Regions from separate parts of the Homo sapiens genome. Here all the other regions are linked to region 1. The links come from fine-mapping of genetic effects on gene expression. A gene starts in region 1. Each other region holds a variant in brackets. All regions are shown on one strand. Distances are from middle to middle. Region 1 holds the start of B4GALNT3 (beta-1,4-N-acetyl-galactosaminyltransferase 3). Region 2 overlaps B4GALNT3 (beta-1,4-N-acetyl-galactosaminyltransferase 3). Region 3 overlaps B4GALNT3 (beta-1,4-N-acetyl-galactosaminyltransferase 3). Region 4 overlaps B4GALNT3 (beta-1,4-N-acetyl-galactosaminyltransferase 3). Region 5 holds the start of LOC124902852 (a long non-coding RNA gene). Region 6 overlaps B4GALNT3 (beta-1,4-N-acetyl-galactosaminyltransferase 3). Region 7 overlaps B4GALNT3 (beta-1,4-N-acetyl-galactosaminyltransferase 3).

Region 1 (4,065 bases):
GAGGGACTCTATTTACAGGGCCCGGTCACTTCCCACTTGACTCAGCCGAGCTTGCACAGGCCGTGCACACACTGGCTGCTCCTATCTTGGACTTGTGGAAAGAAAGAAGAACATGAGAAGTACAGGAATCTGTGGCTTTGGAACTTCACAGAGACCTTTCCCAGGGGCTACAATTAGAGAATTGTCCTTTGGATTCACCCTTTTTGCTAAAGAACTGCAGTGAAAGTTCTGGAAGATGTTTGCTCAAAGTGCTACCCCCATCCTCAAACCTTCCTAAGTGCTAAGTGGACATTGTACCACCCACTGGAAATGCAGCTCCCATTTTTGAAGCCTTACAGTGAGGTTGGGAAAACAAGACTCACACACTCCAAGTAAGTTCCAACATATCAGATGGTGAGACAGATGGCAAGTTCTACTAAAGCTCCAGAAAGGAAGGAGTTGCTTAGGACTTGGCTGGTCCAAGAAAGCTTTATAGAATCTGAAATGGACCTTGGATAAAGGGTACAAGTTGACCAACTAGAAAAGAAAATGTGTTGGAGGGTAGTGAATAAACTCGTTTTAGCTGGAGCAGGTTTCATGTGGTCACATAAAGTTGGAAAAGGTTCTGGAAGGCCCTGAATTCTGGATTTACAGTGTGTATCTTAATCAATAAGCATTGGAAGCCATTAAATATTTTTGAGCAGGTGTGTGACTACATACGGGATTTTTTTTTTTTTTTTTTTTTTTTTGAGACAAGGTCTTGCTCTGTCACCCAGGCTGGAGTGCAGTGGCATGATTGTGGCTCACTACAACCTTACACTCCTCCCACCTCAGCCTCCCGAGTAAGTTAGGACTACAGGTGTGTGTCACCATGCCTGGCTTTTTATGAAGACCATCTGGTGGTAGTGGACAGGATGCGATGGGAAGCTTGGAGTTGGGGAGGCTAATTAGGAAAAGTCCTGTAGAAACTATTGAATATCCAACTGAGGTGAGAACAGAGAGAAGGGAAACATAGTTCTCAATTCTGTGAGAACCTCTGTCTTGGAACAGTACTTGTGTGATATTCATTTGATTTTAAAATGTCCAGGAACACTTTGATCCTTCACTTTTCCCATAGTCTCCTGACCATTTTTCCCAGAAGAGATAATGGAAAAGAAAACTGCAGTATAACTTGCTGAGTGACCTGGGGCAGTTATTCTGCCCCTTGATACTTTATCTAATTTAAATCAGATAATAATGCTTTACCTGCCTGAAGGCAGAGGACTGGAATACTGATTTTTTTTTTTTTGAGACAGGGTCTTGCTGTGTTGCCCAGGCTGGAGTGCACTGACGCAATCACGGCTCACTGCAGCCTTGACCTCCAGAGATCAAGAGATCCTCTTGCCTCAGCCTCTCAAAGTGCTGGGACGACAGCCGTGAGCCACTGTGCCTGGCTTATCTTGCTGATCTTTTCAACTCTAAGAGTGAATACTTTTCTTTTCTTTTTAAAATTCTTTTTCGGAACCCTCAAACACCTACTCTCTTCAAACAGCCATTCCAGCCCAGTCTGGGGAAAACTGCTTGCTGGGGTTCACCGTGGGGGCTGTACGACTTCCCCAGCGCCTCTCGGAGATGTGGTTCAGGCTGGGAAGAAAGGTCTTCAAATCTCAACTGGAAAACGAAGCTATGTCTGCGTTAAGCGTCCAGTGGCTCCCGTGATATTTCACGCCTACTGGTTTCGTCAAGCAGGGAGTCGGGTCGTTGCTGTTGGCGACGAAAGGCTCTGAGGCTAAAGCCTTGGGCGTCGCCCAAACCAGCCTCTACTTCGCTTCTGCCTAAAACCACACCGTTAGGCGCCTGGGTGGTGACTCGGTTTCCCTCGGTCACCCAGAGTCCGCATCATCACTCGCCCCCTCCTCATCCCACCCGTTCCCAGTCGGGGGAGGCACCAGGCACCAGTTCTCTGGCCCCACCTCTCGCTCCCCTAGGGAAGCCGAATGGCCTCTTCGCGTCCCTGGCTTCTCGGGGGCGGAGCCCACCTGTGCCCGGGGCGGGGGCGGGGGCGGGGCCGGGGGCGGGCCAGGTTCCGCGAGCAGGAGAGCCCAGAGCCCGGAGCCCGGTCCGGGGCTGGCGGGGGCGCGGGCGGAGGCAGGCGGGCGGGCGCCGGGGAAGCCTCCTTCTGGGCAGCGAGTGAGGGCGGGCGCGCAGGGAGGGAGGGCGGCAGCGAGCCTGCGACGGGAGAGGCGTGGGGAGGAGAGCCCGGCGCGGAACACACGCGCGGAGGAGGAGCCGGGCTCGGCTCCCGGAGAGACCTGCTGGGCGCCCGCGCAGCCCGGAGACCCCTCGCGCCCGGAGCATGAGCCCGAGCCCCGCCGGAGAGCGGCCGGGAGAGACGGCCTCGGCGCAGCCCTGAGACGCTGGGCCGGGACGCGGGGCGCCCTGGGCGCGGGGCCCGGCCGGGGGGCGGCGGCTCGGGGGGTTGGAGCCCGCGCTGGCGGCGGCCGCCTCGGCGCAGCGCCATGGGGAGCCCCCGGGCCGCGCGGCCCCCGCTGCTCCTGCGCCCGGTGAAGCTGCTGCGGAGGCGCTTCCGGCTGCTGCTGGCGCTCGCCGTGGTGTCTGTGGGGCTCTGGACTCTGTATCTGGAACTGGTGGCGTCGGCCCAGGTCGGCGGGAACCCCCTGAACCGGAGTAAGTAGCACCCAGGGGAGGCGAAGGGCGCGGGGGTGGGCGGCGGCGGCGGCTCCTGCGTTGGGGGGACCCGCCTCTCATCCCATCCTCAGACCCGATTTCCCACCCATTTCTCCCTCAGGTGCCCGGCGTCGCCCCGCGCGTACTCGGGGAGAGCTGCGGGCGGGGGAAGCCGCGGGGCCGAGCGCAGAATTCCCGAGCCCGGGCCTGCCCGCCGGCCACGTGGGTCCGGGGCACCCTGGGGGCTCCTCGCGTCTCCCCTCGGAGAGCGACCCGGAGAGAGGCTCCCCGCCCGTCCCGCCGAGACGCTGGCGGAGACCGGGCCCCTCCAGCCGCTCCGGGCTTGCGGTTCCCGGGGAGGAGGTCCGTGGGGTCCACGCGCGAGCTAGGGATTCGGGTGCGGGATGCCCTCGGCCGTCCACACCCAGGCGCGCGCTCCAGTCCGCGCAGCCCAAACTTTGCCCACCGCCTTCTGTTTGGCTCACTCCGTTTCCTCTCCTGCTGCATCTTCTAGGGGGGTTCTTTTTTACCATACCTCGGAGAGTCCCGTCTCTTCCCCGCTTCCCATACGTCGCTCCTCTCCCAGCCTCCGTCCTCGGCTCTTTGAATCTCCCACCTCCTCGCTGCGCCCTCTTTCTCCTGTTCGGGCCGCCCCTTCTGCCACTTTTCTGAACCCTGAGCAAATCTACCAAACTCCCCAGTTTAAGGAGATGATGGACAGCACAGTGGACCGGGCAGCAGGTAGATTCCTACTTCTGTTTTTAACTTAGCCAAAGCCACTTAATATTTCCGTGCCTCAGTTTCCTCCTAGGAAAACAGGAGAGCGTGGTCTCTTTGCCTTTTTACATCAATAGGTATGGCTGTGCGAGGTGGTTTTCAACGTACTGTGGATGGGCCTAACAAAGTAAAACTGACAGTGACAGGGGCCGTAAAAGATCCTGTAATAGTTGGGAAAAGAAATGGAGAAACTCCCGTTACTACCAGGTGCCCAACGCAAGCCCGGGGAGCCGAGGTTCAAAGTTCTGGCACGTGGCCTCCCATGCCTTCACTTTCCTCCCGCTTTGGGGAAACTCGGACAGAGTGGCTGAGCAAGCAGCTGAGAAGATACTCTGACTCTGACCTGTCGTCGTGTCAGCTTCTCTACCCAGAGTTGGGTGTGGTGCTGTGCCTTCTCTTGTGGCCAAAGAGAGAGAATTACTAGGGACAGTCGCTGAGCTGGTTCAGGTTGGAAATGTATATTTATGGCCTAACCTTTCTGTGGTGATGGAAATCATTCCGGCTGTGAGTTAGAGGAGACTGGCTCTGCCACTAACTAGCGGGGGAATCAAGGGAAAAACGACAGCTTCTCAGGTGAAAATGAGGCCTTTGGTCCAAATGATCTCCAAGGTGTCTTTCAGTCTGGATACGAAGACTGATCTG
Region 2 (4,065 bases), 21 kb after region 1:
AAGGCTTCTGACTCAGCTCCAGGTAGGGGATGTAGCAGAGTTCAGAAGCTCAGCAGGCCACAGGAGACAGCCTAGAGTCTCTCTGCAGTGACCTGACTCTTGGTGAAGGTATTTTGTTTCATGGCTGTGGCTTTTTTTTTATTATTATTTAAATGAAGCAGGGTCTCACCATGTTGCCCAGGTTGGTGTCAAACTCCTGGGCTCAAGCCATCATCCGACCTCAGCCGCCAGAGTAGCTGGGTTACAAGCACGTGCCACCGTGTTCAGTGATGGCTGTGGCTTTGATGGTGTCACTGCCCCACTCTGCCCAGATCCCTTCCCTGAACTGTTGTTCTTGGACTGCCAAACTGGGTAGGGGCAGTAGGACTTTGAATCTGGTCATCAGCAGTAAAAGGGGATATACTTAGGGGACCTTTGGTCACCTAACAGCCAAGAAGAGAAACAAAGTGAAGTCAGGGAAATATGGGGGACAGGATCTTACTTCTAAGGACTCTCGATAAGGGGGAAGTTGAGCAACTGTGTCAGGTGCAGATAAAAAGTCTGGAAGAATGATACCTGGGAAGAAACCAGCACGTTTGGCCAAGGAACAGGGAGAGTTACTGGTGAATTGTGTTAACTGAGACGTGCCGCAGCAGGAGGACGGCAGAAGCCACGTTGTAGAATCATAGAGTATTTAGGCTGGAGGGGAACACCGTGTCCAACTGAGGCCTTTAGTGGTCGGGTGATTTCTCTCTCGTTTTTGCTCATGTAAGTGCAGTGGATCCTGGAGTTTGTTACCAGGATGGGGAGTTCTATTCAGAACTGACCAATTAAAAAAAAACCAACCAGGATGGGGAGTTCTTTTTTTTTTTTTTTTGAGATGGAGTCTCGCTCTGTCGCCCAGGCTGGAGTGCAGTGGCGCCATCTCGGCTCACTGCAAGCTCCACCTCCCGGGTTCACGCCATTCTCCTGCCTCAGCCTCCGGAGTAGCTGGGACTACAGGCGCTCGCCACCACCCCCTGGATAATTTTTTTGTATTTTTAGTAGAGACAAGGTTTCACTGCGTTAGCCAGGATGGTCTCGATCTCCTGACCTCGTGATCCGCCCGCCTCGGCCTCCCAAAGTGCTGAGATTACAGGCGTGAGCCACCGCGCCCGGCCAGGATGGGGAGTTCTATTCAGAACTGACCAATTAAAAAGGAAAAAACATAAGTCCTTTTTCTCTTAAGCATATGGTTAGGGTAAGAATACTCTTGTGGGATTCAGGCTGTGTGGGGTCCAGTCTTGGTTCTGTGGGAACTGGCTCTGTGACTTTGAGCAGGTCAGCTCTGCCCCCGGACGTCAGTTTCCTTTTCCGTAAACACGGAAGGCTTGACGGTGTGGTTCCTGAGGTCCCTCTGACCCTGACATTACGGAAGGCTTGACGGCCTGGTTCCTGAGGTCCCCCTGACTGACATTATTCCCAAAGAAAATGCATTGGCCTTAGCACTGGGGATTCTGAGTTGGCCGTGGCTGGAGAAAGACTATGATAAGGAGCCCTGGGGAGATGCCTGGGTTCCTATTGGTGACCTCGCCTTCTCGTTCAAGCAGGACGGGGAGTGGGACCCAGGCCCAGCCTTATCTCCGGGACCGCGGCTGTCCTCACCCCTCCTCCTGTCACCTGAGAATAAAAGGGTGGGCTCCATAGGCGGGGGCTGTGAGGAGGGGTGCAATTGCATGGGTCATGGACGATGGTCCTTAGACATCTCTGGGGAGCCTTTGGCGGGAGAGGCGCAGGGACTTGGGGGCACTTCCCCAGGCCCTGGTGACCGTGGTCATCTTTGTCACAGCCTCCTCCTCTGCCCTTGCAGGCCAAGGACTGGACCAGTCCCTCTCAGCCTTGCCTCTATCTCTCCCTGCCTGCTCGGCAGCCAACACAGAAACACTGCTGTGTGCTTAGCCCAGGGGTGGGAGGGATTTCTGCCCAGGGATTGGCCATGGAATTGGCTGCTTATTTTGGCAGCTCCCACCACAAAGACCATCAGACGCTGAGGGAAGGC[G/A]AGGTGGGAGTTAGTGAGTCATGGCCATGCCTCAGGGAGGGAGGGAGCTTTCACCAGAGGTGCCCCTGGAGGAAGCAGACTTCCCCTCCAAAGAAGAGGGGTGGGACTCTGGATGCTTCCTCCCAGGGTCACTGGCTTAGGTCAACTAAGGGGATGAGCATCCCCGTGGCGTTCTGTGTAATGGGAATAATGGCCCTGACCTCACAGTGCCGTGGCAGCAAGTTGAAAAGCTAGCACATCAAGCTCTCAGTGAAGGGTTGCTTTCCTTTCCTTGGTGTGCCTTAGGATATGACGGGGTAGGCACCATGGGTGCAGACATGGAGGAAAACCAGAAGCAAATCAGGAGTCCAGCTGCCCACATCCAGTCACTCTTGATTCTCGTGGTTTCTCCAGTGCCCAGCTGAGGCTGGCCATGGTGGGAAAGTGGGACTTTGCTCTGTGCTGCCTTCTCCTAACCCTGTGTTGTCCTGAGGCCAGGCAGACAGGCCCCAGTCATTACCTCACCGCAGGGCCCCTGTCTGCCAGAGTGCATGGTGGAGCTGCCTGGGTGGAGAGCGGAGCTAATTTTAGACCTGGAGACTCTTTGCCAACAGCTGTGGCTGGGCCCAGGCAGCTGGGCTGGATGGCTGGGGGGAGTCTCAGCCGCCCTGCAGGGAGCCCTGGACACAGCGCTCCAGGTCTGCTCTTGGGGGCATATTCCTGCCTCAGCCTCAGCTGTGGGGAAGCCTGGATGAGGGTCCCTCTGCACAGAGGGTGCTTCCTTCCTCCCTCTTGCATCAAGATATTTCTGTCCTCCATCTCCTCTTTCTAGGTGGCTTTGTAGACCAGAAAACATTGATACGGCATCTTAGATGGTAGGTCAGTGGGCCTCTGAAATGGGGCAGGTAGGGGCAACAGGAAGAAAAGGGTGTCCCCAAATCGTTCTGGGTTTATAGGCTAAATCCAGCCTCCCACTCAACCCCGAGCCAATAATCTAATTGAGTGCTTCTCAACCTCCTTCCTGTTAGTACACAGAGAAAATGACAGGAAAAGATACTTGTAACACACATAGGGGTATAAAGAGGTTTGTGGTTGGATGTTGCCAGCCCTCAGATTCTGCTGCTCCAAGCACTGAGGGCTGATACTTTGGGACACGTTACCATTTGGAGCCTACTAGCAGCCACAGCACACCAGTGGGGAAGCTCTGATATCGTCCGTCAGTGGCTTGCCACAGTCCATGTATGCCAAGTCCAAGCTTCAGGAAACATCTCCTTGGCTAATCATAGACCTGTGCTGGAAGGGAACCCAGAGAGCATTGAATCTGTGCTCTCCTTTTACAGATGAGGAAACTGAGGCTGAAAGAGGCTTGTCCAAGGTTAAAAAGCTAGTAAGTCAAAATCCCAGTTTTAAGTTCTGTTAGGACAGTCATCCCTTCATTTATCCAACATTTATTGAGTTCCAATAAAGATCAATATTTGGAGGATACAATGATGAAAAAAGTTGTGGGGATTCGTCTGTATTTGGTAAAGAGAAAACCAAGGAAACCATTCAGGAAGGTCGTTATTTCCGGTGAGAGAGATGGGGATGTGATTGGAGAGAGGCACAGAGGGCTTCAAAACGTGTCTGTTTCTTAAGCATATGCAGCCAGGCACCGTGGCACACACCTATAGTTCCGGCTACTCAGGAGGCTAAGGTGAGAGGTTCACTTGAGCCCAGGGGTTTGAGGCTGAAGTGATGTATGATAGAGCCTGTGAATTGCAACCACATTCCAGCCTGGGCAACATAGTGAGACCCCATTTCAGAAGGAAAGAAAGTGTACACAGGTGTTATTCTTCTTTTCTCTCTTTTTTTCTGGAGACAGGATCTCACTCTGTCACCCAGGCTGGAGTGCAGTGGCATGATCATGGCTCACTGCAGCCTTAACCCCCTGGGTTCAAGTGATTCTTCCACTTCAGCCTCCTGAGTAGCTGGCACTACAGGTGGATGTCACCTCATCCAGCTAATTTTTTTTTTCCCTTTGGAGAGACAGGGTCTTACCGTGTTGCCCAGGCTGGTCTTGAACTCCTGGG
Region 3 (4,065 bases), 90 kb after region 1:
CCGTGGTGGGTACGCCGTGTGCAGCTCCGCAGAGCAGCTGGTGCGTGGTCCCTGGGGCAAGTCGGCCGGCGGAATCCCACCTCCACCCCTCATCACTCTGGCAGACTACCCAAGCCTTCTGTGCCTCTGTGTTCTCCTCTACGAACAAGGATTACATGAGGTCACATATTGAAAGCATTTAGAACAGTGTCTGCCACAGTCTCTGAGCTCTAACGGCTTCTGTTACTGTTCTTTGGGTTCTTCCGATCATCCTGTGGAGGAGGTACTCTGATTATGCCCATCTCACCAAGAGAAAACAGCTCACACTGTTAGCAAGTGATAGAGTGGGGGCTCGAACCTAGGCAGTTAACTCCTGGCATTCTAAGAGCAAGGAGAAGGGATGAGGGAGTGTAAGGTGCTGGAAGGGGGTGGGACAGAGCCGCGACCCCAGGGCCCATGGAGATGGCGCTCTGCTTCCCTGCCCTCTCTCCCGCCAGCCTGTCAGCCTCCCACAGGTACTACTTCGAGGTGCTGCACAAGCAGAATGAGGAGGGCACCGACCACGTGGAAGTTGCAGTGAGTTTCCTGCTGCTCCCGCCTCTCCCAGCTCAGTTCCTGGCACTCATCTCCCCTTGTCCCTTGACCCCTGTTGGAAATCCAGCTACCTCCCACCTTCTGCATCTACCCTCTCTCTCCTCTTCCAGTGGCGACGGAACGACCCTGGAGCCAAGTTCACCATCATTGACTCCCTCTCCCTGTCCCTCTTCACAAGTGAGTAGGCTCTGGCCCTGCCCTGGAGATGGAGGCCAGGTGGGGACAGCCTACCCTGGGGGATTTGGCAGGGGAGGAGGGGAGGAGGGGAGGAAGGAAGCTCGAGATGCTTGGGACACGGGTATGAAGGGGTCCAGAACAAGAGTGGGACCTTATGACCAGGAGTCCTTAACTCCCCAGGGTCAGTGACCCCTTTGAGAACCTGCTAGAAGCTCTCTGAGCCCTTGCCTCAGAAAAATGCCCTTGTCTACCCACCCACACACAACATTTTGAATACAACTTCAAGGGAGTCCAGAGACTGTGAGCTCACACCAGATCTAAAAACTCTGAGGCTGGGTGCGGTGGCTCATACCTGTAATCCCAGCACTTTGGGAGGCCGAGGTAGGAGGATTGCTTGAGCCCAGGAGTTCGAGACCAGCCCAGGCCACATAGCGACACCTCATCTCTACAAAAAATTAAAAAATTAACTGGGTGTGGTGGCGCATGCCTGTAGTCACAGCTACTGGGAAGGATCGCTTGAGCCCAGGAGTTCGAAGCTGAAGCTACAGTGAGCTGTAATTGGGTCACTGTGCTCCAGCCTGGGCAACAGAGCAAGACGCTGCCTCAAAAGCAAAACAAAACAACACAAAAAAACCCTCTGAGCGAGTCCAATCCCCTATTTTCCAGATGAGGTAACCACGGTTCTTGCAAAGCCATGGCCAGGGCAGAGGAAACCTGTTCACCTGCCTTCAGTGCACAGGAAGCGACCTCTTTCTTCAATGGCATTTTCCATTTCATATCATTTCCTCAGTGAGACTCCCATCCTCAGGCCCCGTTGAAAAACATGCCATCCATAGGCCTCCGTGGCAGGTGTAGACAGATGCATGAACCCGGGAGACAGAGAGCAAAGAAGCAGCCAGCCCCCCACCCCCCTTCTCTGTGGCTGCTTTAACCTGGATGCTGAAACTAGATCACCTGGCTTCAAACTCAGCTTGGCCACCCGTCTGTTGTATGATGTTGGGCAAATGACTTAGATTCTCTATGCCAAAGTTCCTTATCTGTAAACTGGGAATGATCGTAGTACAGAAGGCATGTGGTGCTTTTGGAGATTAGAAGGGTTCATATTTGGGATATTCTTAGAGCAGGGCCTGGCTTATTATTAAGTGCTCTGTAAGCGTTCAATAAATTAGGCGTACTTAATGCCACATTTCTAGCAGTCCGCAGTAACACATTTTGAGAAAGAGGTGTCTTTTTCCGAGTACGCAACACAGTCGTGTGGGTCAGCCGTGGGGCTGGCAGAGGGGGCCGAAGGCAGATGAATCGTGAAGCCACCGCTGTGGCGGGGGCCAGAGGGAGTGTGGCTGCGCACATCCTACACCGTCGCCGCTGGAGTCAGGAGCCCCTTCTGCGTCTCTTCCCTCCCCTTCA[A/G]GGGCAGTGGGCTGCTGCGCTCCAGGCCACACAGCCTCCTGCTTTCTTTCCTCCCTGCGCCCAGATGAGACGTTCCTACAGATGGATGAGGTGGGCCACATCCCACAGACAGCAGCCAGCCACGTGGACTCCTCCAACGCTCTTCCCAGGGATGAGCAGCCGCCCGCTGACATGCTTCGGCCTGACCCCCGGGACACCCTCTATCGAGGTAAGGCCTCGGCCAGCGCTTGGCGTCCTTTCTGGGGACACTGCACTGCCAGGTCCACTGCTGATGGTGGAGAAGGCTTGAGAGACCTGCCAAGTATCCCAATCACCGTAGAACTTTTTATCGTCCTTGTAACATAGAACATGCATACAGAAAAGAGAGCATGTAAATAAGTATAAAATATTTACGTGTAATTTTACAATTCTGCATATCATTACAGAGTGAACGTTTGTGGAACCACCACCCACAACAAGAAATAGAGTTAGAACCCGGAAGTCCCCCACACATCCCTTCCCAATCTCACACGTCCCCGCCTCTTACTGCATTCCAACTCTTGTCATCCAAGGAGAGAAATACGTGGACACCACAGTGTTAGAGTCTTAATGCATGATTCCTCTTGGGAGTGTTTACATTTTAAAAGACGGCCAAGATGGCCAGGCATGGTGGCTCATTCCTGTCATCCTGGCACTTTGGGATGCTGAGGTGGGAGGATCGCTTGAGCCCAGGAGGTTGAGGCTGCAGTGAGCTGTGATTGAACCACTGCACTCCAGCCTGGGTGACAGAGTGAGATCCTGTCAAAAAAAACAAACAAACAAAAAAAACAACAAAGTTTCTTTACTCCTCACCCCTCTCAAAAAAATGACAACTGACGCTAAGGGGATGTTCAGCCCATGGTAGGAAATCCAGTTATCGGTACTGTACGAGGGAGGGGACCTTCTGGCCTCTTAGAAGTTTCTAGACCTTATTGAGGCTATCCCTGCACAGTGACTCTAAGATCAAACGGTGCCTTGTACCTGGGGCTGTGTGCTGAGTCCTCTGCTGCCAGGGTGCTCCTCAAATGGCCCTGCTCCAGGTGCGTGGGGCAGCCTCCAGCTGGCAGCCTCAGCCACAGACGTCGGCAGAACACAGCTGCCGCTTGCGAATACAGAAAGGGCCCTGCTCAGGGCAGAGGACTTCAGCCCCAGTTTCGTGCTCACCCTCACCCTCACTCCTCCTCCTCCACTGTCCTCAGTGCCTCTGATCCCCAAGTCGCATCTCCGCCACGTCCTGCCTGACTGTCCCTACAAACCCAGCTATCTGGTGGATGGGCTTCCTCTGCAGCGCTACCAGGGACTCCGGTTTGTAAGTCTTGGGCCTGGGTCATGGAGAGCAGGGCTGGCAGAGGGATTGCTGCCTGTGACTGGGATGGGAGGTGGTGAGGCTGACTTTCCCATCTTCCCAACATCCCATCCCAGCAGACAGGACGTCCTCACAGGTCCCTGGGCTGGGAAGAACTTGCACTCCCAGATGGACCGCCCTGAATAGACTGTCCAGCAGAGCCTGCACGTGGGTGCTCTGCCTCAGGGCCCCCCAACACACACCAACTCAGCCCAGCCCCGTGATGATATCAGGTGGCCTGGCTGAGGCTTCTTAAGCTCCCTGCTCCAAGGGCCACACAACCCTACCCTGCCTGGTCAGTCCCGCCAGCTAGTGAGCCAGCAGGACTTACTAAACCCAGAGACCAGGCACTGGGGGAAAAAGAGCTATGGAGGGGAAGTTAGCTTTAAAGAACCCAGAACCCATGCGGAAGCCAGACAGGCAGCGTGGCCACTCTCCTGTGCATCCAGATCTAGAGATGATTATAAGGAAGAGCTGGAGGGCAGAAGAAAGAGGTCAGGAGGCATCACCAGGTCAGAGAATGGCTGGGGTGTAATTGAGAAGTT
Region 4 (4,065 bases), 96 kb after region 1:
GATCTTGACCAGGCAGGTGTTTGTCCCGCCATTAGGCAAGGTTCTGAAATCCCTGGGTGCCTGGCCCAGTACGTGTGTTGAGGACTGGAAGGACTCAGTAGATGAGGTCCCCTCCTCCGAGGAAAGAGCTAGTAAATAGACAAACAGGCAAAACAGAGGCTAGAAAAATACAAATTAAGACCCTGCATGTGGGCTGGAAGGGTTAGGGCGTGATGCATGACTGGAGTTCTTTGTGTTTTCATTCATCCATTCATTCAACCAGTCAACATTTTTTACGATAAAATTTATATAACATTAAAATCACCATTTTAAGGTGTACCTTTCAGTGGTTTTAAAAGTATATTTACAGGCTGGGCGCGGTGGCTCACGCCTGTAATCCCAGCACTTTGGGAGGCCGAGGCGGGCGGATCACGAGGTCAGGAGATCGAGACCATCCTGGCTAACACGGTGAAACCCCGTCTCTACTAAAAATACAAAAAATTAGCCAGGCATAGTGGCGGGCGCCTGTAGTCCCAGCTACTCGGGAGGCTGAGGCAGGAGAATGGCGTGAACCCGGGAGGCGGAGCTTGCAGTGAGCTGAGATTGCGCCACTGCACTCCAGCCTGGGCGACAGAGCAAGACTCCGTCTCAAAAAAAAAAAAAAAAAAAAAAAAAAAAGTATATTTACAGTGTTGTGCAAGCATCACCATTGTCAAATTCCAGAACGTTTTCATCATCTTTGAAACAAATTATACTGGCCAGACGCAGTGGCTCACGCCTCTAATCCCAACACTTTGGGAGACCGGGGTAGGTGGATCACTTGAGGTCAGGAGTTTGAGACCAGCTTGACCAACACAGTGAAACCCCATCTCTAATAAAAATACAAAAATTAGCAGGGCTTGATGGCATGCACCTGTATCCCCAGCTACTTGGGAGGCTGAAGCAGGAGAATCACTTGAACCCGGGAGGTGGAGGTTGTAGTGAGCAGAGGTCGCACCATTGCACTCCAGCCTGGGCGACAGAGTGAGACTCTGTCTCAAAAAAAAAGAAAAAGAAAGAAAAAAAAAAAGAAACCGTATGTGTTAGTGGTTACTTCCCATTCCTCCTCCTACCCCCAGTAGTGTCTGGCAATAACTACTTTCCTTTCTAGCTCTGTGGATTTTCCTATTCCGGACATCTTATGCAAATGGAACCATGTAATGTGTGGCCTTTATATCGGGCTTTTTGCAGAATATTCACTTAGCACAAGTTTCATTCGTGTTGTAGAATCTATTAAACACTTCATTCCTCGATATTGCTGAGTAATATTCTATTGTGTGGATATACCACATTTTTCCATTCATCCGTTGAAGGACATGTGGGTTGTTTCTACTTTTTGACTATTACAAATAAAATGCTGCAATGAACATTCATGCACAAGCTTTTATGTGAACATACTTTCAGTTGTCTTGGGTATATATCTAGGAGTAGAACTTCTGGGTCATATGGTAACTCTGTTTAGCATGTTGAGGAGCTGCCACTCTGCTTTTTAAATCAACTGCATCATTTCACATTCCCATCAGCAGGGTATGAAGATTCCAATTTTTCTACATCCTTATCAACACTTGTTACTTTTCATTTCATTGTGTTTTATTTATTTTTATTTTTATTTATTTTTTTTTTTGAGACGGAGTCTCGCTCTGTCGCCCAGGCTGGAGTGCAGTGGCGCGATCTCGACTCATGCAAGCTCCGCCTCCCGGGTTCACGCCATTCTCCTGCCTCAGCCTCCTGAGTAGCTGGAACTACAGGTGCCCACCACCACACCTGGCTAATTTTTTATATTTTTAGTAGAGACAGGGTTTCACCATATTAGCCAGGCTGGTCTTGATCTCCTGACCTTGTGATCCACCTGCCTTGGCCTCCCAAAATGCTGGGATTACAGGTGTGAGCCACTGCACCTGGCATTGTGTTTTGTTTTAAATAGCCATCCTGGTGAGTGTGAAATGGTATCACACTGTGGTTTTGATTTTTATTTCTCTAGTGACTAATGATTTTGAGCCAACCAATTGACATCTGTCTTATAACTCATTTTGTCTTATGGAATGTTGATTCGACCGTTTTTATTGAGGGTCAGTTTCTCAGGGAACCTCTTCAGTGTGACCCCTCTTATTCAGCTCATGTACTTAGAATCTTGGAGCTGTAAAAGACCTTCAGGATCATCACAGCTCAACAGGTACATTTTCAAAGAGGGAGGCAGCGAACCCTAGAGAGATTGCGAATCTTGCCTGAGGCCCTATAGCCAGCCAGTGGCAAAGCTAGGACAAAAACCAGGGTCTCCCAACAACTAGCTTTGCAGGCTTCTCACACACC[G/A]TGCTACCCTCCCAGTGTGGAAAGGAACCACTCAGCCTCCCCACACTTTCTGCCATAGGAGGTACCAGCTACAGCGCATTGTGAACGTGGAAAAGCGTCAGGACCAGCTACGTGGGGGTCGCTACCTCCTGGAGCTTGAACTGTTGGAACAAGGCCAGCGCGTGGTGCGGCTCTCGGAGTATGTGTCTGCACGAGGCTGGCAGGGCATCGATCCAGCTGGTGGGGAGGAGGTCGAGGCCCGGAACCTGCAAGGCCTGGTCTGGGACCCACACAACCGTAGGAGACAGGTCCTGAATACCCGGGCCCAAGAGCCCAAGCTGTGCTGGCCTCAGGGTTTCTCCTGGAGTCACCGAGCCGTGGTCCACTTCGTCGTGCCTGGTGAGCCTCAAGCTGAGCCTCGGCATTCTCAGGGGCGGGGTCCTCACACTGTCAGGAGCACCCACATCTGCTTGCACTGATTTGATCCCATAAGCACTTCTGAGAAAGACCACCTTATAGTTGAGGAAACTGAGGCTCACAAAAGGAAAGTCACTGGTTTAAGGTTATGTGGCTAGTAAATGTTGCCGCTAAAAACAAACACTGCCTCATAGGCCAGTGCTCTTTCTTTCGTACTAGGTTTCAGGATTGGGTGTGATAACTGGGGTTGCTAACACTGGGGATGATCATTGGTCTGGGGAAGTAAGACGGGCAGCGTACTTAATGAAGTGATGAGCAGGGTTTTATATGAGAAGGAGGAACACACAACAGGCAGAAGTGTAACAACAGAGGTAGGATGATGGGGATAGGACGACGATACTAAGAGGGACAGATAACAGGGTTTCACTAGTAGAGCGTGGCAGGGCTACTGACAATGAGCCCCAGCCAAGGCCTTCTCGTGGGTCCCCTGCCTGGGAGGAGGGAACGTGGGGAGCAGGATGCAGAGGCCCCCTTAACTGGTGAGCACTCCCTCTGCCTCATGTCTCTGTGCTGCACTGCTAATGGTTTTGCAGAGTTGCACTGTCCCCTCAGCCGAGGTCCGATGGGCACTCCTGACTCACCTGGGAGCTGGGGGTGGAGGCGCTCATCCGCTCATCTTTGCCTTGTCTGTGTTTCCTTCTCCTGCCTGACCCCCTGGGGTAGTGAAGAACCAGGCACGCTGGGTACAGCAATTCATCAAAGACATGGAAAACCTGTTCCAGGTCACCGGTGACCCACACTTCAACATCGTCATCACTGACTATAGCAGTGAGGACATGGATGTTGAGATGGCACTGAAGAGGTCCAAGCTGCGGAGGTGAGGGGGACCACCAGCCAGGGGGTGGCATGGGCCACGTCCATCCTAAAGTCCTAGGGCTGCTGGGTCCAGGGTAGAGCCAGGAGTCCTGCCCAGCCTTCCTGATTCCTAGTCTCCAACTTTTCCCAGAGGGCTCACCTGCCCATAATCCCATCCCAGGAGCACACATCATCTCTCTTCTATGCCTGCCAACTTCCTCCAGGGGACCACCGCAGCTGAGTCCTGATACGCAGCCCTCTCTCCCCTTCCTGCAGCTACCAGTACGTGAAGCTAAGTGGAAACTTTGAACGCTCAGCTGGACTTCAGGCTGGCATAGACCTCGTGAAGGTAAAGGGCCTGGATGGGGCCTGCGAGATGGAATTCAAGGCTGGTTAAGAGGTAGAGAGACATTTGGGGTAAATGAGGTGGTGAGCCCCTCAGGGAGGACGGGAATGAGGACACAGGAGGTCCTCTCTGCTGTGCTG
Region 5 (4,065 bases), 47 kb after region 1:
TAAGCACGGGCTACCATGGCTGGCTAATTTTTAGCCCGGGAATTTGAGTCTGCAGTGAGCTTTAAATTGCACCCCTGCACTCCAGCCTGAGCAACAGAGTGAGATTCTGTCAAAAAAACAAACAAACAAAAAAACCCCACATACTGTTATTAATTATCATCACCATGTTGTCAAATCTTCTCTTTCTGAACCCTTCTGCCCTTAATTCCCTTAACCCTTCTGTCTCTTAACCCTTCTGCCCTCCCCCACAAAAACCCTTGTGTGAAAATGTAGTCTTAAAAAGAATTCATCACAGGTTTTTTTTTTTTTGAGATGGAGTTTCGCTCTTGTTGCCCAGGATGGAGTGCAGTGGCGCGATCTCGGCTCACTGCAACCTCCGCCTCTTGGGTTCAAGCGATCCTCCTGCCTCAGCCTCCCGAGTAGCTGGGATTACAGGTGCACACCACCACGCCTGGCTAATGTTTTCTGTATTTTTAGTAGAGACAGGGTTTCACCATATTGGCCAACATGGTCTCAATCTCCTGACCTTGTGATCTGCCTGCCTTGGCCTCCCAACGTGCTGGGAGTACAGGCGTGAACCACCACGCCTGGCCTCACCAGAGGTTTTAACAGATGTTCTATACTATGTAATGAGTGAATTAATTAGTTATTTGGTAGCTCTGTTTTGAGACAACTTGGGGCTTCCCTCTCCTCCTAGAATTAACTAACAGCTGGTGAAAGAGCAGAGGGACAGTGACCACCAGGCCAACCTCGCCCAGAGAACTGACAGCAGCATCAGCGGCTCTTACAGCAGCCCCCTTTCCTCTGTTCCCACTGCAGCCTCCAACCCTGGACTCCCTAAGCCCAGAGGGGAAAGGAAGGGCCGTCTGCCCAGCCATTTGAACCCTGATCCATCTTGGATTGGAGAATTGCTTTGGAGAAACCTGAAATCAAGAATTGGCGCTTGCTGAGATTTGCCTGGGGGAACATTTGCCCCATCCTTGAGTTTGGCTTTTGCATTTTCTGGCCTTTCTCATGCTTTCCTGTCCATTTTCAGAATGTTCCCACTGCATGAAGTATTGTCTCCCTGCCACACTTCATTGTCATGGGGGAGAGTGTCCTGAAGACCCTTGTTTCATGTTGCTGGGGCCCAGGATTGCTGTCTGCAGAGAGATAGGGGTCTGAATAGGTCTACCTCTCAAATTATCCTGCTTCTGGGGTTGATAGGAGTTGGGGGAGGAGACTGAGGAGCTGGAGACAAAGCTCTGTGGAACCCACCAAGGATTTTAAACCCTCTCCCATGAAGAGCCCTAGATCAGTGACAAGTGGGAGAGTTGCCATTTGCAACTCCATCCATCTATTTTTGTCTTCTTTCATTTGCATAGATCTGAGCCAGGTAAGCATCAGCTGATACTCTTCTTATAAATCAGATTGTAACCCGATTTGTCTGTCTCATTTTTTTACCCTCTAATACAGCACAGGTACAGTATGCCTATAGGTATGTCCCTGAAACATTCTATGCAGTTCAGATTTTTTTTTTTTAGGAACTATTTTAAATTCATTAGGCAGGCTTTATTATTTCAGGCATCCATGATGGATCTGCTAGCAACAGGAAAATCGTTCTTCATTTGTGTGTGTTTATTATCAAATCATAGAGTGTAACACTTACAATGGTCCTTAAATATCATCATTTTATAACTAAGAAAACCAAGGATCAGGAGGTCACTGGGATCACAAAGCCAGTGAAAGAACAAGGACCAAAACCTTGGTCTCCTGACTTCTAGCCCACTGCTCTTTCAATCACAGGGACAATGAAATACAGAGAAGTTTAAAACTGTTATCTTCCTATATTTTCATTTCCATCTCTTTTTTCTACTTAAAAACATTTTATTTCTATTTTTTAAAATTCAAAGGTATATAATATTAAAAGGTGCTTTCACAGAAGTAAGCACCATAAAAAATTCAATATGCCTTCTAAGTGTTTTCTATGCCTCTGTGATGCCTGTACACATACACATAGAGGCTCCTATACTTACAAGTGCATTTTTATTTATTTTTTATTTTATTTATTTTTTTTGAGACAGAGTCTCACTCTGTCACCCAGGCTGGAGTGCAGTGGCGCGGTCTCGGCTCACTGCAAGCTCCGCCTCCCGGGTTCACGCCATTCTCCTGCCTCAGCCTCCCGAGTAGCTGGGACTACAGACACATACCACCACGCCCGGCTAATTTTTTGTATCTTTAGTAGAGACGGGGTTTCACCGTGTTAGCCAGGATGGTCTCGATCTCCTGACCTCGTGATCCGCCCGCCTCGGCCTCCCGAAGTGCTGGGATTACAGGCGTGAGCCACCGTGCCCGGCCAAGTGCATTTTTAAATGAATTTTTAATTTTAGAATAGTTTTTCATTTACCCAACATTGCAAAGGTAGTCTGGAGAGCTCTCACTTTGCTCACACCCAGTTTCCTCTATTATT[G/A]GCATCTTGCATTAAGCCCCGGTACATTTGTCATGATTAATGAACCAATATCGGATGTTATTATTAACTCAAGTTCATACTGTATCCTGAATTCCTTTCAGATATCCCTTTTCTGTTCCTAGACCTCTGTAGTCATTGGGTCTCCCTAAGTTCCTACTGGCCATGACAGATTTAAGCGTTTTTTTGATAGTGTCACTTTTGTGATATATATGGCAACCTTTTTTCACATAACTATATGTTTTGAACACCTTTCTGGGTTAGTGTGTGTGGCCTTCCACACCCTTTTAACTCACCACAGTGTTCTGTTGAGTGGCTTTACCCCATCATTTTACACTGCCCTTGGCACAGAGCCCCCGTCTGGAAGTGTCACTGGGCCTGGGTGCTGTCTGGTGGATTAGACAGACGCTTCCACTGTCTTGGAATTTGGACACTGTGGGAACAGAGAACATGGATGTAAATGACCTGACAGAGCTCAGAGAAAAGGAGCCACGTGGCCTGGGGCACTGCTGTTGTGGCGACCCTTCACCCCACGCCCTCCACCCTACATCCCTCACCCCACACCCTACGCCCTGCGAGTGGCTCTGTGTTTACATACAAGAGTTTACATCTGTGGTGGAAGCACTTTCTCACAAAAGGGTAGGGCTTATTCTAGGAGGCCCTACCAAAGAAAAGCACTAGGTAGCAGCATTCCAGCTGTAGGGCCCGTGACTGTGGCATGCGGAACATTCCTGCCCCTGGAAATCCAGTAGTAGCTTGGTGGACGTCTGTCCCTGGAAATCCAGTAGTAGCTTGGTGGACACCTGCCCCTGGAAATCCAGTAGTACCTTGGTGGACACCTGCCCCTGGAAATCCAGTAGTAGCTTGGTGGACACCTGCCCCTGGAAATCCAGTAGTAGCTTGGTGGACACCTGCCCCTGGAAATCCAGTAGTAGCTTGGTGGACACCTGTCAGGAGTGCTTGAGTAGAGCGTTGATACTAACCTGTGAAAGAAATTTCTCATGATCATCCATTGTAACTGGAAGAGATCTGAAAAATGACTCGGCCCAAGGTCCCACAGCCAGTGGAGACAGAATGTCTTCTCTTACTGTCTTTTCCGCTGGCCCTGCCAGCCCAGACCTGTCCCTAGGGGGACATCCAATTCATATTCGTTAATGAAGAGAAAGCTTCCAGATCCTTCAAGGTGTCTCTGTTACCTCAGAAGGTCCAGTGCATATTTTGAAACAACTTACTTTTGTTTTTTTTAGACAGGGTCTTGCTCCATCACCCAGGCCACCCAAGCTGGAGTTCAGTGATGCAATCATGGCTTACTGCAGCTTCGAACTCCCAGGCTTGAGCAATCTTCCCACCTCAGGCTCTTGAGTGCCTGGGACTACAGGTGTGTGCCACCATGCCTGGCTAATTTTTAAAAATTTGTTATAGAGATAGGGTCTTACTACATTGCCCAGGCTGGTCTCAAACTCATGGTCTCAAGCAATAAAACAGCTTTTTAATGTTTAAATTATACCCGAGGTTTGGTTCTCTGCAGATGTCCCCCAGAATTGGGCACAGCCTCCGATCGGCCTTATTCCTCTCACTTAATATTTGTCACTATTCCAAACCCCATGTTCAACACTTCA
Region 6 (4,065 bases), 59 kb after region 1:
ATAATTGTCAGGGTAACAAGTGTAAACTGGGTCTTTCCCCAATAAACGTTACTCATTGGCCATCAGAAGGATCTTGGATTGTATTTGAGTGATTTGGGAAGTCACTGGAAGGTTCCAAGCAAGGACTGGCATGGCCTGACTTACATTTTGGTGGAGTTCCTCTGGCTACTAGACCATAGGTGCAGGGGTGGATACAAGGGGACTGGAAGAGCGATGATGTCTAGGACTGGAGTGGTGGAGACGGAGGAGGGAGAAGTCATCAGATTTTGGATGGCTTTTGAAAGTATGGCTGATGAGACTTGCTGAGGGATTGGATATGGGGAGAGGAATCAATGAGGGATTGGATATGGGGAGAGGAATCAAGTAGTTTGAAGATTTTTGACCTGGGTGGTTGGAAGGCTGGAGTTGTCATTTACAGGATGGAGAGGTGCAGGTTTGGGAGGAAAAATCAAGAGTTAGGTTAAGTTTCAGATGCCTTTGGTATCCAAGTGAGAGAGTGAGTAAGAAAATTCACTGTATAAGCGGGGAGTTCAGGCTAAGGCTAGGGAAGTCATCAATGTACAGATGGTGTCCCAAAAAACCTGCTGAGATCAGCAAGGCAGCAGTGTTGATGGCAAAGACAAATATCGGGGACTGACCCTAAGGTAAGCAATCCAGTGTTTAAAGGTTAAAGGAAAAATGAGGAGCATTTAGCAAAAGGATAAGGAGTAGCCCATGGGAGAAGATCAGGGATTACAGGGGAATCATAACCTTCTGCTTGACACACTTCTGTACTCTGTGATTTAGGGGGAGGGAGGTAAACATATGTTACTTGTATTTTAGAAACAAAGCTTCTGGGTTCCAGTCAGGGACCCAAGACAGGTGTCTTGTGGGAGGCGAGGGGGTTGGAGGTGGCCCTGTAAAATCTAGGTCTCTTTAGGGACAGTGATGTTATTTCCGTTTTATTTTATTTCAGTGATTTATTTACATTCCCAGACCCAGCAATTCCACCTTCCCCAAAATGCCTATTCATGACCTACTTCCCCATGATGTCTTCCCTGACCACCAGGATCCTCCTCTCTGGATTCCAGGAGACTTTGCTCAGTGCTCAGTTATGTACTTGTCATGTTATCAAACCCATCCTTCCTGCATGAAGCAGGGCTGTGCCATGGGGAAAGCATAGGAGAGGCAGGCTGGGTGTGAACTCCAGTCCAGCCATGCATTAGCGGCCGTGGCAGGACCATCAGCCATGACTTATCAATTCCTCACCAGTGGGGCTCCACAATACTGGCTTCACAGGATTGGAATGAGAATTAACCAGGCAGTAGTGGGAAGAGTGAGGTCTTTGAAACCAAACAGAATTAGTTTGAATCCCAGTTTAGCTACTTTTAAGATCTGGGGCAAATCATGTAAACTCTTTAAACCTCAGTTTTATCGTTAGGAAAATGGGGAGAATAGTACCTTACAGGGCTGTTGTGCATTGGAAATTAATTCATTCATTTACCTAATTCATCTTTCCAGCTGAATTATGAGGGTAGAGGGGTGAAACAACTGGGCTTTAAGATATTAAGGAACTTGCCAAAGGTCACAAGCTAAAAAGTGGCAGGGTGGGAATTCAGTTCCAGATCTTTCTGCTCTGAAAGTGGTTCTTACCCATCTTCAATCATCCACTCAGAGCCAAACAAGGCAGCTATGCGCAGTTGTCTCTTGGTATCCACGACGGATTGATTCCAGAATTCCCCATGGATACCAAAATCCGAGGATACTCAGGTCCCTTATATAAAATATGGTGCAGTATTTGCATATAACCTACATACATCCTTCCATATGATTTTTTTAAGACTCTGGGTCTCACTCTGTTCCCCAGGCTGGAGTGCAGTGGTGATCATAGCTCACTGCAGACTCCAACTCAGGGACTCAAGCAGTCCTCCCTCCTCAGCCTCTAGGACCACAGGCGTGTGCCACCATGCCCGGCTAATTGTTGTTGTTGTAAAGATGGGGTCTGTTGTGTTGCTCAGCCTGGTCTCCAACTCCTGGGCTCTAAGCTATCCTCCCACCTCAGCCTCTCAGAGTACTAGAATTACAGGCATGAGGCACTGTGCCCAGCCCCTCCCATATACTTTAAATCATCTGTAGATTACTTCTAATACTTAATACAATGCAATAGCATTTGCAGTTACATAGCATTGTAAATAGTTGTCATGCTGTGTATTTTTAACTTGTATTTTCTATTATCGTATTTTTTATTTTTATTTTTCTGAATATTTTCAATCGCTATTGGTTGAATCCACGGATATGAAACCTGCGGGACCTGTGTATACCAAGGACTGACGATATACATAATAGATGCTCAGAAAATCTAGCTTGTTGTCTGCCCACGTGGCTTCTTCTTTAAAGTCTCTTTTAAAGCTTCCTTCCCACTGTAAGCCATTTCGTGCAACCATCAGAATTCTAATAAACTGATCCAAGAAGCCAATT[C/A]AAAATAAATGTCAGACTGTGCAGTCTTTGTGAGAAGCCTGTATCTGTTTTTACATGCTGGTGAACTCCAGGGAAACCTAGCTCAGTGCCTCAGCCCACTCAAGGGAATATTTGCATCTTACCCTACAAATTGCCTACAACAGGCTCTTTGAAAGATGGAAAACATATTCCCCTAAGACCTGGGAAGGCTAAACAGTTAATAGCTTCTCAAGGGTTTTATGTATTACTAGGATACCGGCAGCTATCACAGGTCATTAAATATCAAAGTTTATGCTCAAGAAGCCAAAAGAAAAACAATCCAGCTTCTCTGTGCCTCAGTTGTCTTCACAAATACCCCAACTAGGAGAATGTTCCAGAAACCATTTAAGCATCATGCAGGTAAAATGAGAGTCGCACAGATCTGAAGGGTTCAAATGTTCACCGCTGGCAGAACGCGGCTCAGTGGCAATAAGGCTCCCTCCCCTTTCATCCTGGAGCTTTCTCCTAGTATTGGCTCCTTCCCCAAAGCGTCTCTCTTTTCCTTTCTGCTTTTTTTTTTTTTTTTCCGGTAAGGATCAGAGTCATCCATCCCATCCCAAGCAGTTTTTATCAGCTCATCTTCTGAGATATCCTTGATTTTCTCTTTGATTCCCACCAGACCTTGTTGATGTGTTGGTTCACTGAGGCTCTTTCAGCCGAATCAGGGACACAAATTTAGGTTGAGCGACTGCTGTTTCTTAGCAACTTAGCAACTGCAGTCTCATCAGCAAAAGGTGAGTAGAGGTGAGCTCCTCACTCAGCCCTCAACAGCGCTCGCCATAACCCTTGGGTTGTTTCCATGGAAAGTACTCTCTCATTGGCCGGGTTAGTCCCTTTCATATTCTCAGCTTTCTACCCTCTTGTTATGTCCTCTGTGTAGGGGAATTTCAACATATATTTGACCTAGCATTGGTTCTATTGCTGTCTCCACTTCATACTTCACTGTTTATGGTTCGGGCCAGCTGTCATGTCCCTCCAGCATGGAGTTAGACCTGGATCGACGCGCTGGCTCAGGGAAAAGGGAGTGGTGGGAGAAATTGCTGGGGGTTAGGGGCAAGACAGGACATGGGATAGAGGGTTTTGGAGTAAACTTTTATCCTCTAAAGCTATCCATGCGTCTTAGCAACATCTCTGTTGACCCAGCTATACATGGGTTAGATAGAGTTGTATAGAGCAGTTCCCTCTGGTCCTTTGACCCGTGATTTTAGCAAATGTGTGAGGCTGAGGACTATAGAGATCTTTGAAACTGATAACAGTGTCAAACAATGTAACTGGCCTGGTTTTCCAGGAGAGATGAACTATTTCAGACATTCTATTGCCATAGCCAGACCACATATCCTGATTTTGAGTTCAGAAAATATGGTTATTAACACATCAAATAACCAGTTGATTTAGTAAGGTCCTCACTTTTCTATTATCATACTTTTCCCTGTAGACATAGAGCTGTATGGGATGTAAAAATCCTGCTCAGTAGTTTAATTGGCCATCATAACGGCCGATGTCTCATTGCATTGCTGAAAGGTAAGAGTAGATCAGTAGAAATTATCTTATGGGATTGTGACTAATAGTATCTGAACTAAAGTAGGTATT
Region 7 (4,065 bases), 37 kb after region 1:
TTAGAAGCCAAGAGTTCAGGAGTATGAGCGCTGGAGTCTCCCTCCCTCTTCCTCCATTTTCTACCATCCCATAGTAGTCATGCAGGATTGGGTGGGACCATAGCTTAAGGTGTTGAGGCCAGCACCCAGGTATAACTTGTATGGCTTCGGAGAATTTCCTGAGCATATGGTTTTCCCCATCTCAGAGACCCGTGTAGTACTGGACGCTGGGACATTGGAACAGGAGTGTAGGAGAAGACCCACAGATTGTCCCCTTGTCACCAGCCCTATCAATCAATGCACACCAAAAACTGGAGCACCAGGCTCCTGAGGCAGTGATGGGGGGAGTAAACTGGAAAGGCTGACTGGGGCCTAATGTGTGCGGGGGGGAGTCTTTATTCTTATGTATTCTTTGATAACAGAATCATTAATGAGAGCATTGTCCGGATTTAGTCTCAGGTTTCACTCGTTAGGTTGAAAATGTGAAAAGCCTCTACCCCTTTAGCTACAAGTGAGGAAACCTGGGTATAAAAAGGAGGCCTGGAGTTCTTGTTCTGGCTCTGCATAGCGTAAGCACAGTGCCGGCATTTTACTATTAAATAATAAGAATGTGTGGACCACTTTCTGTGTTCCTGGCACAATGGATGCACTTTGTATGTGGCAGCTCATTTCAATCTCAGAGCTTCCTTCTCTTTTACAGATTAAATAAACAGAAGCTCAGAAAGGTTAAATAACTTGTCTCAAGTTACACAGTCACACTGTAACAGCCAGGATTTGAAACCAGGTCTATCTGACTTCAGAACCCATGCTCCTAGTCACCTCAGGTCTGCCCCCTAAAAGGGTTTGCTTTAGGGGTTCAGTTTCCTGGGGAGGGGTTTCCAGTTGCTCTCTTTGAGGTTTCTCATTTCCTCCTGAATTCTTGGGTCGTTCTTTTTCCCCTTAGTCCCCCTAACTTTCTTTGTAAACCTTAGTTCAGCTGATCAATGTACCCTCCGCCAAACGTACCGTAAGAAACAAAAGGGTCATCTAGACCTCAGGCATGCAATAGGTGAGGTAAAATTACCTCTAAGGTTGCCTCCTATTTTCAGCACTTGGAAGTACCTGCTGTGTTTCTAGGCCTATGCTTGGGGCTGTTGTGTACAGCTATGCAGGTTGTTCACTGCAGAGATGCTCCCTTCTTAGGGGGTGAATGCGGACCAGACTCTAGCATGAGCTTCACTTGCCAAACTGCGTGCCTGAGGGGAAGGCACAAAGACACTGGATGGGTTAATGGTAGCCCTGACTCTGCTGGGCTCAGGGGTAAGTCTGGCCCTTGGGTAGCTTTCTTATCTTTATTTAGAAAAGTATCCCCATGAAATAATGGAAGCCGGGTCTGCAGCTCTGCTGTGTTGCAGGTAGTGTGAGGAGTGCAGCAGGTGCTCAGCTACCAAGAATTACAAGAAGATCAATGTTCATGAATGATATACATTTGAAAAGTTTACATGTATTAAACTTTATTGACAGTATATATTTGTGTTTATATGTGCACATCTATAAATATAAAAGCAGATTCACATCATTCTCCTCCCTTGTATTCCAATACACTTTCTTGAGGGGTACATAAAAGGTTGGAATTTGTTAGCTCCTTCAGAGTTGCAGAGAACCCTAAATATGCCCATATATGTGTCATGCCATGTCCCCTGTCCAGGATCATGGCAGAAAAAGATCCAGAGCTGTGGAATTCGCGAACAAATGGTAGCAATGTAGTCCCTTGTCCATCTCTAGCTCTCACTTTTCTTTTCTGGTATCCAGCAGCCTTGGTCCCTGGGCTCCCTGGATGTCTTCATTTACTCTTAAAAAAAAAATTGAGCTGGATTTCATGTAACATTAACTTTTAAAGGGTACAATTCAGCGGTGGCACATGCATGTAGTCCCAGCACTTTGGGAGGCCGAGGTGGGCAGATCACTTGAGGTCAGGAGTTCAAGACCAGCCTGGCCAACATGGTGAAACCCCGTATCTACTAAAAATACAAAAATTGTCCAGGCGTGGTGGCACACACCTGTGATCCCAGCTACCTGGCAGGCTGAGGCAGGAGAATTGCTTGAACCTGGGAGGCGGAGGTTGCAGTGAGCCAATATTGCACTCTGCACTCCAGCCTGGGTGACAGAACAAGACTCCATCTCAAAAAAAATAAAAAAATAAAGTGTACAATTCAGCGGCATTTAGTACATATACAATGTTGTACCACCGTCACCTCTGTCTAGTTCCCAAATATTTCCGTCACCCCTAAAGGAGACTCTGCCCA[T/C]GCGCGTTAAGCAGTCACTCCTTCCCCTTCCTCAGACCCTGGCAACCTCTATTCTGCCTTCTGCGTCTGTGGATTTACCCAGTCTTGTGTGTGGCTTCTTTCACTTAGCATGACGTTTTCAAAATTCATCCATGTGTAGCATGTTAGTACTTCATTCGTTTATTCTATTTATTTAGAGACAGGGTCTTGCTCTGCCGCCCAGGCTGGAGTGCAGTACAGATCACGGCTCACTGCAGCCTCCAATTCCTGGGCTCAAGGGATCCTCCCACTCAGCTTCCTTCACTTTCAATTTTTTGTAGAGACGGGTTCTTGCTGTGTTTCTCAGGCTGGTCTCAAACGCCTGGCCTCAAGCGATCCTTCCACCTCAGCCGCTGAGAGTACTGGGATTACAGGCGTGGGCCATCGCTCCTGGCTTTCATTTATTATTATTATTTTTTTAATTATTTTTTTGAGACGGAGTTTCGCTCTTGTTGCCCAGGCTGGAGTGCAATGCCGCGATCTCGGCTCACTGCAACCTCCGCCTCCCGGGTTCAAGCGATTCTCCTGCCTCAGCCTCCTGAGTAGCTGGGATTACAGGCACGTGCCACCATGCCTGGTTAATTTTGTATTTTTAGTAGAGACGGGGTTTCTCCATGTTGGTCAGGCTGTTCTCACTCAGGTGAACCGCCCGCCTCGGCCTCCCAAAGTGCTGGGATTACAGGCGTGAGCCACTGCACCTGGCCCCTTCATTTATTTTTAAGGCTGAATCATATTCCATTGTATGGATATGCCACGTTTTGTTCACCCATTCATCTGTCAATGGACATTTGGGTTGCTTTCACCTTTGGCAATTGTGAATAATGCTGCTATAAACACTGGTGTACAAATATTTGTTTGAATATCTGTTTTCATTTCTTTTGGGTATAGACCCAGGAGCGGAATTCCTGGGTCCCGTGGTAACTCTGTTTAACTTTCTGGAGAACCGGCTTTGTTCATTGTTGTTGAGCACCGAGCCAGGTGGTCACTTTTCCTCATGCTTGACCTCCCGCTCTTTGTGTCTAAGTCAGGAGGTAGTCATTTTGTTTGTCTTGTTTTCAGCACCAGCATTCCCAGGCCCTGCATCCCTGGGCTGTTTTTGTTGCTCTCCTGTTCAGTAGCACAGCCACTCTAGAAAGTGTTTTGATTCTTTACCCTAACCACTTCCTAGCCTGTTTACAGCCACTGGATTCCTAAAGTCTCCTCCTGGGTATGACACACACTCGATTTCTCAGTCTCTTCTGATGCCTCCCCACCCACAGCTTCCAAACCCACCCCTGATTTCCCATTCAGTGACTAAACAATAAACAAACCTTCCTCTACTTCTCCAGTTTTATACACACACGCCCCTTCACTGCCCTGTCGGTTGCGAAGTTCTTCATGCTGTCTCCTGGGCTTACTAGTACCTTGGCAGTGCCCCACAGTTGCCCCTGAAGAGAGATTGTTTTTCTGTCTTTCCATTCGATGCTGTTTCTGATTGCGTATCATGAAGCCAGCCTTGTCACTGGCTCTTCCTGCCGCTGAGAGGTGATTTTGAATGAGATGCTATCCCTCCCCAGCTACCTCTCCACCATGTCCGCCCAAGTCCAGTTGTCACCCAGAGCCCAGACACTTCAGAAGCAGCTCACTGAGAGGCCACTGTGTGCTGGCTTTGGATGCTCCAAACCCTCTACCATGCACTAGAATGATGCCCTCTGGACCACGGTTAATTTAAATAACTCCATCTGTGGCCCCATCTCTAGTTGACTTCCTGTTTTTGTTTTGTTCTGATTCCTGTGTGTTGTCC

The links.
Region 2: its variant is fine-mapped to the expression of B4GALNT3 in tibial artery (GTEx, PIP above 0.99). The same link has a PIP of 0.9 or more in ovary.
Region 3: its variant is fine-mapped to the expression of B4GALNT3 in whole blood (TOPMed, PIP above 0.99).
Region 4: its variant is fine-mapped to the expression of B4GALNT3 in whole blood (INTERVAL, PIP above 0.99).
Region 5: its variant is fine-mapped to the expression of B4GALNT3 in lung (TOPMed, PIP 0.98).
Region 6: its variant is fine-mapped to the expression of B4GALNT3 in nucleus accumbens (GTEx, PIP above 0.99).
Region 7: its variant is fine-mapped to the expression of B4GALNT3 in thyroid (GTEx, PIP above 0.99).

Annotation. Positions count from the first base shown.
Region 1 is chr12:457,900-461,964 of GRCh38, forward strand. B4GALNT3 (beta-1,4-N-acetyl-galactosaminyltransferase 3) reads left to right here and starts at 2,040. Exons shown (of 20, transcript NM_173593.4): 1 at 2,040-2,646. The coding sequence starts at 2,478. RefSeq lists an enhancer at 1,208-2,191.
Region 2 is chr12:479,076-483,140 of GRCh38, forward strand. All of the region lies in intron 1 of B4GALNT3 (beta-1,4-N-acetyl-galactosaminyltransferase 3), which reads left to right. Among named protein-coding and RNA genes, the nearest start is that of B4GALNT3, 21 kb to the left of the region's middle. The variant G/A (reference allele first, on the strand shown) is at 2,018.
Region 3 is chr12:547,548-551,612 of GRCh38, forward strand. It overlaps B4GALNT3 (beta-1,4-N-acetyl-galactosaminyltransferase 3), which reads left to right. Exons shown (of 20, transcript NM_173593.4): 8 at 477-555; 9 at 684-750; 10 at 2,222-2,365; 11 at 3,375-3,484. Among named protein-coding and RNA genes, the nearest start is that of NINJ2-AS1, 81 kb to the right of the region's middle. The variant A/G (reference allele first, on the strand shown) is at 2,158.
Region 4 is chr12:554,161-558,225 of GRCh38, forward strand. It overlaps B4GALNT3 (beta-1,4-N-acetyl-galactosaminyltransferase 3), which reads left to right. Exons shown (of 20, transcript NM_173593.4): 15 at 2,387-2,706; 16 at 3,448-3,601; 17 at 3,856-3,928. Among named protein-coding and RNA genes, the nearest start is that of NINJ2-AS1, 75 kb to the right of the region's middle. The variant G/A (reference allele first, on the strand shown) is at 2,329.
Region 5 is chr12:504,599-508,663 of GRCh38, forward strand. The region is part of intron 1 of B4GALNT3 (beta-1,4-N-acetyl-galactosaminyltransferase 3); the gene reads left to right. It overlaps LOC124902852 (a long non-coding RNA gene), which reads right to left and starts at 3,572. Exons shown (of 3, transcript XR_007063150.1): 1 at 3,394-3,572; 2 at 3,250-3,357; 3 at 3,127-3,177. The variant G/A (reference allele first, on the strand shown) is at 2,450.
Region 6 is chr12:516,613-520,677 of GRCh38, forward strand. All of the region lies in intron 1 of B4GALNT3 (beta-1,4-N-acetyl-galactosaminyltransferase 3), which reads left to right. Among named protein-coding and RNA genes, the nearest start is that of B4GALNT3, 59 kb to the left of the region's middle. The variant C/A (reference allele first, on the strand shown) is at 2,458.
Region 7 is chr12:494,457-498,521 of GRCh38, forward strand. All of the region lies in intron 1 of B4GALNT3 (beta-1,4-N-acetyl-galactosaminyltransferase 3), which reads left to right. Among named protein-coding and RNA genes, the nearest start is that of B4GALNT3, 37 kb to the left of the region's middle. The variant T/C (reference allele first, on the strand shown) is at 2,265.